Linked DNA regions of Homo sapiens: region 2 is linked to region 1. Evidence: fine-mapped expression QTL. A gene starts in region 1. The other region holds a variant in brackets. All regions are shown on one strand. Distances are from middle to middle.

Region 1 (4,383 bases):
GGTAGCCCCGCCCACACTGCTGACAACGGTAGGGCCGAGGGATGCTGTCAGCCTCCTCACTGTCCTGGTTGGGAGATGGATGGAGCAGTTCTCGGTGCCGAGAGAGCTCTGGGAGGCTGGGAAAGTGGCGCTGACAGTCGGAGCAGCTGAGTGAGGGGGGTGTGTCCTCCATGGGGCAACGTAGCAGAAACCTGGAGGTTCAGAAGGAGCAGACACGTGGCAGCACCTTCCTCTGGTGGAGGGGCCAAGGCCTAGGAAGAGGGGGCAGTGGTCAAAAGGAAGGCCTGAATTAACTTCGCCTCTTGGCTCTACGAGCAACAAGTTCACCTGAGGTCACTGAGAGGTTCCCCAAGCATCCATGCCCAAGGACCTAATTTCTACTAGATCCAATCTGCAGGCACCATCATTTAAGGCTTCCCTGTGCACAAGCTTCCCAAATATAGGAGCTCCCCTAGGCTTAAGTCATCCCTACAGGTATAGCTAAGGAAATTAAAGTTGAGAGAGATGCAACCTACTTCTGATCACAGACCTGTTATGTTCTTCAGACCAGACTCAAAAGGCATTACTGTCCTTTAAGAACAGTAGGAATCTGCTCCCTACAATCCTGAAACAAAAATTTTCTGTGACATCTTAAAAGGACACCAAAACCTTCTCTAGGCCTTTCAATAAGAGAAGTCCAAATCTTCCTACTTCATCTCTCAGCTAAACAGAGTAGCTGAGAAGCACTGAAAAAGCAGCTGTTTCCTCCAGTTAATAGCTGAGGACCTGAGAGGAGAGGTTAGAGGCCTCCTTCAGGGAAAGGGCTGGCTTGTTCCCCCACCACCCCGAGTCATTTCAGTGTCACAAGGTCTCTTTTCCTTGTGACAAGAGAGTTAAGAGAGTTAAGACTCTCTTAACTGGGCCAGGTGTGGTGGCTCACGCCTGTAATCCCAGCACTTTGGGAGGCCGAGGCTGGTGGATCACCTGAGTTCAGGAGTTCAAGACCAGCCTGGACAACATGGTGAAACCCTGTCTCTACTAAAAATACAAAAATTAGCCGGGCGTGGTGGTGGGCACCTGTAATTCTAGCTACTCAGGAGGCTGAGGCTGAAGAACTGCTTGAACCTGGGAGGTGGAGGTTGCAGTGAGCTGAGATCCCACCACAGCACTCCAGCCTGGGTGACAGAGCGAGACTCCATCTCAAAAAAACAAAAAACCCCAAAAGACTCTCTTAGCGACTTCTTTTATCTACTTCCCTTGAACTCAAACTATCTTCCATCTTGGGAATAACATCAATACCAGGTTGTAATGTCACTTCATTGCCTACCTTTTCTCTCCCATGCCTCCTGATCTTACCCTCACCAGTCTTTCTCATTTTTTTCTTCTGCCTCCTCTCTTAATACTGATGATGACAGCAACTCATGAAGAGTATTATATTACCATGTGCCAGGCACTGTGCTAACTATATTCATTGTGTTACTCAATCCTCAGAACACACGGCAATGCCTGTTATTCTAGTTCACGTAACAGCAAACCCCCTGACTGAGGCGGTCTTCATCCCAAAGCCCTTGCTCTCTCATGCCCCCTACATCGTCTTGTCCTTCTCCAACTCTGACTCTTCTTCCCATGGGACCCCAGTACAACTGTCTCCGACCGTAAACCCCTTCACTGAACCTGCCCCCGGAATTCTCACCTCACAAAGCCCCTTTGATCAAAAGTCCCCTCCCCTAGTCAACCACCAATGAAGTCCTCTGACCTCACTCATCTCGTCTGCCAATTTCCTCTCAGGACGCCTACCTCGCACCGGCGGCCCCCTCTCCTTCCCGCCGCGGGCGCGTCAGTTGGGGACCGCGAACAAGAGCGCGCCTGCGCACTGGGACCCTTACCCTAACTGCAGCCGCGCGCCCCAAGGGGTGGCTGTCGGGGGGCTCTCGCGCTCCCACACACGCACACTCAGCCAGGGTTCCCGGGAGGTGGGAGGGAAGGGAAAGAGGGAAAGGAGAAGGGGGGAAGAGGAAGGAGGTAGAGAAAAGAGGGCGCAGCTGGCATGAGCCAGGAGTCTACTCCCAGCTCTACGGACACTTCCTATTGTTACTAGGAAACAGGAAGTGTCCTTAGGTGCAAAAGCTTCCCCGCGAAACTTCCGCTTCGGGAGCACTGCCTGTCCCGCCTCCGAGCCGCAGTTTTACGCAGACACACTTCCGGCGCTAAGTTCTAGGTCTGCACGGCTGACTCCGCCCACGTAGGTCACAACGCGGCGTCTTTGCACGCTAAGCTAGCCACACTTCCGGCAAGAGCAGCTAGAATCGTTCCGGTGCATATTGAATAGGCGCAGAAAGGGAGAAAAAGATTCTACAGCCCTGGCCACAGTACTTTGGTGACACTTTTCGTGGGGCTCTCTGGAGGACTTTTCCCAAGGCAGATGGAGAAAACTTCGTGAAACCCACTCCTTGCTATTAAAGGAAATGTTGTGGAATATAATTGGACTTAGGTTTTGCAGAGCTTGAGCATGGCCTTTTTGTCCTCCCACCTTCTGGTTCTTGAAGACATTGCCGGTGACCTGGCCCCAGACTAACACAAGGCGGGCGTATACCGTCAGCCTGCCTGGCGTCCCCTTGCCTCAGCACACACAGAGACCTCTTGCAAGATGCTTCTCTGCCGCCATAGGCTGGAGGTTCCCCGGGAACTTTCCCTTCCTTCCTAGCTGAGGAAGATCCCTCACTTCCGCTCGCCGCGCCACCGGTCCCACCTCCCCGCCCCCCGCTGGGTCCTAGCGCCGGCCCCTGTTTGGCAGGGTCCGGGCTCCGTCGGTGCGAGGAGCCGACGCCGACGCCACGGAGTCAGCACAAGTCTCATCAGGTAGGAAACGTCGGCGGGAAGCCGCGAGGGCCCCGGGCAGCTCCCACGCGGCCACGATCCGAGCTGGCCTCAGTTTCCCTGCGGGCGCCGAGGGCGGGCCGGGTTGGCCCAGCGCGAGCAGCGCGGGCGGGGCGGGCTGTGAGCGGCCCCGGGCGCATTGCGGGCCCAGCAGGTCCTAGAACCCGCCGGCTGTCTCCGCGGTTCTGGGCTGCGGACACCCAGGCTCGGCCCGCGCGGCTGCTGGCCCGGCGCGGTGTGGTCCCGGGGGTCCTAGAGCCCGCCATGTTTTGGGTTTTTGTCCCGGTCGCGTGGCCCGCGCTGCAAGATCCCAGGCGCCGGCGGCCCCCTCCCCTGCTGAGGCCCGGCCACCACTCCCGCGGTCCTAGAGAACGCCATCTTGCAAGCCTTTGTCCCTCATTCGGCCTTCCGTCCATTCATTTGTTCATCTCCTCATCCTTCGTTCAGTCCTCCTTGCCACGTCCTCCGAAGCCACGTTTTCTGAGGCTTATAACCGGGGTCCTGCCCTCCAGGGGCTGCCTGGCTGGCGGGGGCGCCGCGTACAGACGGTTGCGAGGAGCGAGGAGCTCCGGGTTTCTGCAACTCTCGGCTCCTCGGCGCGCTTCGTAGGCCCCACCGCCCTTCAAACTCCCACAAACTTAAGGGACCCCATTTTACTGATGAGGAAACTGAGGTCCAGAGCGGCGTGGGGCCCTTACCTCTCTACTGCCATAAAGTATTCCTGAGGGCACTAGGGAAGGGGGTTCTTGAAGGATGTAAAGGGGCTTTCCCGTTGGAGAAGGCAGGCAAGGGCTCCCCGAGCCCAGGAAACTGCATCTAGAGGTGGAGGATTGAGAATTGTGGCTGGAGGTTCGGTCGCTGCCGGGAGGAGGACTCTGTCGCTGGAGCTGAGGCTGGAAAAGTAGGTTGGGATCAGGTTGTGAACTGGCCCGGTAGGAGGCCTAGGATATGATTAGCGCTCACTTCTGCAGGGTTCATCCGCTCACTACGTCACTCCTGGCCGTGAGGCCTGTGTGGTGACTGCTTGTTTAGAGATGGGAAGATTGAGGTGCCTCCTTTTTCTCCTCATCCCTGCCCCAGGGTCCTAGCCTAGGATTTTTGGAAATTGAATCTTTGCTTGCCTAGTGAGACAGCAGAACTTCATCCCCTTCCTAAGCCAGTAGTGAGGCAAAGCAAGGCTTCATCGCCACGACAGGGAGCCCACTGTGGGATATTGGGGCAATAGTTGAGCCTTGTGGAGTTGGAAAGGTGGAGGAATTTAGTTAATAAACAGTTATTGGTGGACATTCTCACAAACTCCTACTGTGGAGGAGGCAGAGGCTACAGACCTGGGTTCAAATTTCATCTGAGGTTGGTTCTTTCCATTTGTTTTGGGTCACCACACAGGGTTCTGGGTGTAGAGGAGGCAGATGATCGGTTTCCTAGCCCTTTGCCAGCCTGGACTCTGGTGCTGGTGATGAAGAATTAACAGCCAAACCATAAGATGTGTAATGCTAGCAAAGCAATAGTCAGGGCTCAGAGAGCAGG
Region 2 (4,383 bases), 26 kb after region 1:
CACGGTGGTTCATGCCTGTAATCCCAGCACTTTAGAAGGCCAAAGCTGGCGGATGGCCTGAGGTCAGGAGTTCCAGACCTACTCAGGAGGCTGAAGCACAATATTTGCTTAAATCCAGAAGGCAGAGGTTGCATTGATCCGAGATCGCACCACTGCACTCCAGCCTGGTGACAGAGCAAGACTCCATCTCAAAAAAAAAAAAAAAAAGAAAGAAAAAAAGAAATAGGCTCACTGGTTAGGACCTGAGGGTGAACAGCTCTGAAGAGGAGCAAAGGCGGAGACTTCCTAACATCAGCATAGCTCATTATGGTGTGTCAGTTGTCATGGTGATGGGAAAGGATACCTGAGCAGGGTATCCCACAGGGAGGCTGCATCTATCAGCTGGGATCCAGTTACGCTGCAGTAATAGCAGCCCCCAAATCTTAGGGGCTCACAACACCATGTTGATTTCTCACTCATATCCATGTCCTCCATGGGACCACTCTGTTCTATGCTATCTTCATTCTAGAGCCCTGTCTGAAGGAAAAGTCTCAAGCTGGAACTTTCCGTCTCCAGACACCGAAGAGAGGAAAGGTGGCAGACCCCATGACGGCTTTTAAAGCTTCCTCGTGGAAGTGGCACATGTCATTTCCACTCAAAGTCCATGGTCTAAAGCAAGCCACATAGCCATACCTGATGTCAGTGAACTGGGGACAAAAAACCATTCTATGTAGCAGGTCCCCAAAGAGAGGGCCAGTGAATACATGTGATTTTTTTTTGTTGGTTGTTTTTTTAGAGTCAGTGTTTTGTTGTGTTGCCCAGGCTGGAGTGCATAGGTGCATGGTGCAATCATAACTCACTGCAGCCTCTACCTCCTGAGCTTAAGTGATCCTCCCACCTCAGCCTCCTAAGTAGCTAGGACTACAGGCAAGCACCACCACGCCCAGCTAATTTTTTTTTATTGTTTTATTTTTTGTAGAGATAGGGTCTCACTATGTTGCCCATGCTGGTCTCAAACTCCTGGCCTCAAGTGATCCTCCTGCTTCACCCTCCCAAAGCACTGGGATTATAGGCGTGAGCCACCACACACATCCCAGTGAATGTTTTTGAACAATTATAAAATCTTCCCCCGTCTGCCCTCTTCCTTACAAATACTGCCTTTGCATTTTCTTCCATATGCAAAATAAATGCATCCCCTTCCCAAGGGAGACCACCTAAGTGACCCATCTGACATGGAATCAGCCTCAAGCCCAGGATCTCTAATAGTCTCTTCTATATCAGGTCCAGATGTGGCTTCTCTTGATTCAGAGACCTATGAGCTACAAAATAAGAGAGAGACAGAGACAAGTTACCTGTGCCCCATTTCTACACACACACACACACGAACACATCCAACATATAAAGCAGAACAAGGACAGGAGAACAGCAGAGCACACTCCCGTTCAGAAGGAAGGACAGGGCCCGGTGCGGTGGCTCATGCCTGTAATCCCAGCACTTTGGGAGGCCGAGGCCGGTGGATCACCTGAGGTCAGGAGTTTGAGACCACCCTGGCCAACACGGTGAAAACCTGTCTCTACTAAAAATACAAAAATTAGCCAGGCGCAGTGGCTCACGTCTGTAATTCCAGCACTTTGGGAGGCCGAGGGGGGCAGATCACAAGGTCAGGAGTTCAAGACCAGCCAGGCCAACATAGTGAAACCCGGTCTCTACTAAAAATACAAAAAGTTAGCCGGGCGTGGTGGCGGGCCCCTGTAGTCCCAGCTACTCAGGAGGCTGAGACAGGAGAATCGCTTGAACCCAGGAGGCAGAGGTTGCAGTGAGCCGAGATCGTGCCATTCCACTCCAGCCTGGGCGACAGTGCAAGACTCCGTCTCAAAAACAAAAACAAAAAACCCCAAAACCAAAAATTAGCCAGGCGTGGTGGCATGCACCTGTAGTCCCAGCTACTCGGGAGGCTGAGGCAAGAGAATCGCTTGAACCCAGGAGGCAGAGGTTGCAGTGAGCCGAGATAGTGCCATTGCACTACAACATGGGTGACAAAAGTGAAACTCTGTCTCAAAAAAAAAAAAAAAAAAAAAAAAGGAAGGAAGGACAGGAGACACACAGCAGGCTCTGGGCCCCACTAAGTCTAAAGTGCTGCTGGGCAGATGTTGAGAAGAACCCCCACTTTTCCCTGGGAGTGGGAAGAGTTCCCTAGTTCATTCTTCACCATGTTCTTGGCTCTGCCCTTAGAGTAAACCACCCTTTTCCACTTATTCTCCTTGGCCACAATTGAGAGGACACTGGTGGTTATGTCTTTCTGAAGTAGAGTAGCTTTCTCAGTCTCCTTCATGCCCATAGAAATTTGGAGACCCATGGCCAGGTGCGGTGGCTCACGCCTATAACCCCAACACTTTGGGAGGCCGAGGCGGGCAGATCACGAGGTCAGGAGATCGAAACCATCCTGGCGAACACAGTGAAACCCTGTCTCTACTAAAAATACAAAAAAAAATTAGCCGGGCATGGTGGCGGGC[G/A]CCTGTAGTCCCAGCTACTCGGGAGGCTGAGGCGGGAGAACGGCGTGAACCTGGGAGGCAGAGCTTGCAGTGAGCCGAGATCACACCACTGCACTCCAGCCTGGGTGACAGAACGAGACTCCGTCTCTAAAAAAAAAAAAGAAATTTGGAGACCCAGGCCGGGCATGGTGGTTCACATCTGCAATCACAGTATTTTGAGAGGCTAAGGCAGGAGGATCACTTGAGGCAAGGATTGCTTGAGGCCAGCCTGGGCAACATACAGAGACCCCCATCTCTACTAAAAACAAAACAAAACAAAACAAAAAAAAACCTGAAATACAAAAATTAGGCTGGGCATGGTGGCTCACACCTGTAATCCCATCACTTTGGGAAGCCAACGAGGGAGAACTCCTTAAGACCAGAAGTTCAAGACCAGCTTGGGCAACAGGCTGAAATCCTCTCCAGAAAAAAATAGAAAAATTAGCCAGGTGTGGTGGCGCATGCCTGTAGTCCCAGCTACTCAGAAGGCTGAGGTGGGGGGATCACTGGAGCCCTAGAGGTAGAGGCTGCAGTGAGGCTTGATTGTGCCACTGCACTCCAGCTGGAGTGACAGAGCAAGACTTCATCTCAAAACAAAACAAAGCAAAACAAAACAAAAATAGGCTGGGCATGGTGGTACACTGCACGCCTATAATGCCAGCACTTTGGGAGGCCAAGACAGGTGAATCGCTTGAGTTCAGGAGTTCGAGACCAGCCTGGGCAATATAGCAAGACCCTGTCTCTACCAAAAAAATACAAAAATTAGCCGGGCATGGTAGCGCACACCTGTAGTCCCAGCTACTTGGGAGGCTGAGGTAAGTGGATCACTCAAGCCCAGGAAGCGGAGGTTGCAGTGAGCCAAGATCGTGCCACTGCACTTCAGCCTGGGTGGCAGAGTGAGATTTTGTTTCAAAAAAATTTGAAAAACAAAAATTAGCCTGCTGGGGTGGCATGGGCCTGTAGTCCCAGCTACTTGGGAGGCTGAGGCAGGAGGATCGTGTGAGCCCAGAAGTTCGAGGTTATAGAGAGCTGTGGTTGCATCACTGCACTCCAGGCTGGGTGACAGAGTGAGACCCGGTCTCCGAAATAAAAAAAAAGAAAGAAACTTGGGGACCTAAAAATCATACTAAGTATTGAACACTCATGGTCAAGATTTAACCTGGTGGCTTTTTGTCAGGGTGAGGGGGTGTTAGGCAGGGGAAGCAGGGCAATTCCCTCCAAAACTGAACTTACGTATTTTACTCCATTCAGATCCATGGGTCAACAGCATACCCATAATTCTTTTCAGACATAACCATGACGTTAGACTTAACTGTAGTTGAGCCTACTGACTCCCTCAGGTAAGCTACATTTTTTTTTTTTTTTGAGATGGAGTTTCACTCTTGTTGCCCAGGCTGGAGTGCCATGGGTGATCTTGGCTCACTGCAACCTCCGCCTCCCAGGTTCAAGCAATTCTCCTGCCTCAGCCTCCCAAGTAGTTGGGATTACAGGCATGCACCACCATGCCTGGCTAATTTTGTATTTTTAGTAGAGACGGGGTTTCTCCATGTTGGTTAGGCTAGTCTCAAACTCCTGACCTCAGGTGATCCGCCCACCTCAGCCTCCCAAAGTGCTGGAATTACAGGCGTGAGCCACCACGCCCAGCCAAGGTGAGTTACACTCTTAACCTCTTTCCTTTGAATCATCTTGACTAGCTGAGAGGATTTATTAGGAACCACTTTGATCAGTTTGGAGATTTTTACAAAGGGCATAATAGCCATATACTTGATATGGCCCTTGCCACAAAGATGACTTTTAATCAAAACTTGTAGCTCAGCCGGTCGCAGTGGCTCACACCTGTAATCCCAGCACTTTGGGAGGCCGAGGTGGGAGG

What was found. PIP is the estimated chance that this variant, and not a neighbour inherited with it, causes the effect.
Region 2: its variant is the best candidate, but not a certain one, in a credible set for the expression of ZNF646 in whole blood (TOPMed, PIP 0.55).

Annotation. Positions count from the first base shown.
Region 1 is chr16:31,072,114-31,076,496 of GRCh38, reverse strand. It overlaps ZNF646 (zinc finger protein 646), which reads right to left and starts at 2,075. Exons shown (of 3, transcript NM_014699.4): 1 at 1,866-2,075; 2 at 1-251. The coding sequence starts at 172. ZNF668 (zinc finger protein 668) reads left to right here and starts at 2,257. Exons shown (of 3, transcript NM_024706.5): 1 at 2,257-2,838. RefSeq lists enhancers at 1,309-1,841, 2,197-2,336, 1,842-2,375, 2,995-3,289, 2,581-3,381 and a silencer at 2,647-3,106.
Region 2 is chr16:31,046,428-31,050,810 of GRCh38, reverse strand. No RefSeq gene overlaps it. Among named protein-coding and RNA genes, the nearest start is that of STX4, 15 kb to the right of the region's middle. The variant G/A (reference allele first, on the strand shown) is at 2,493.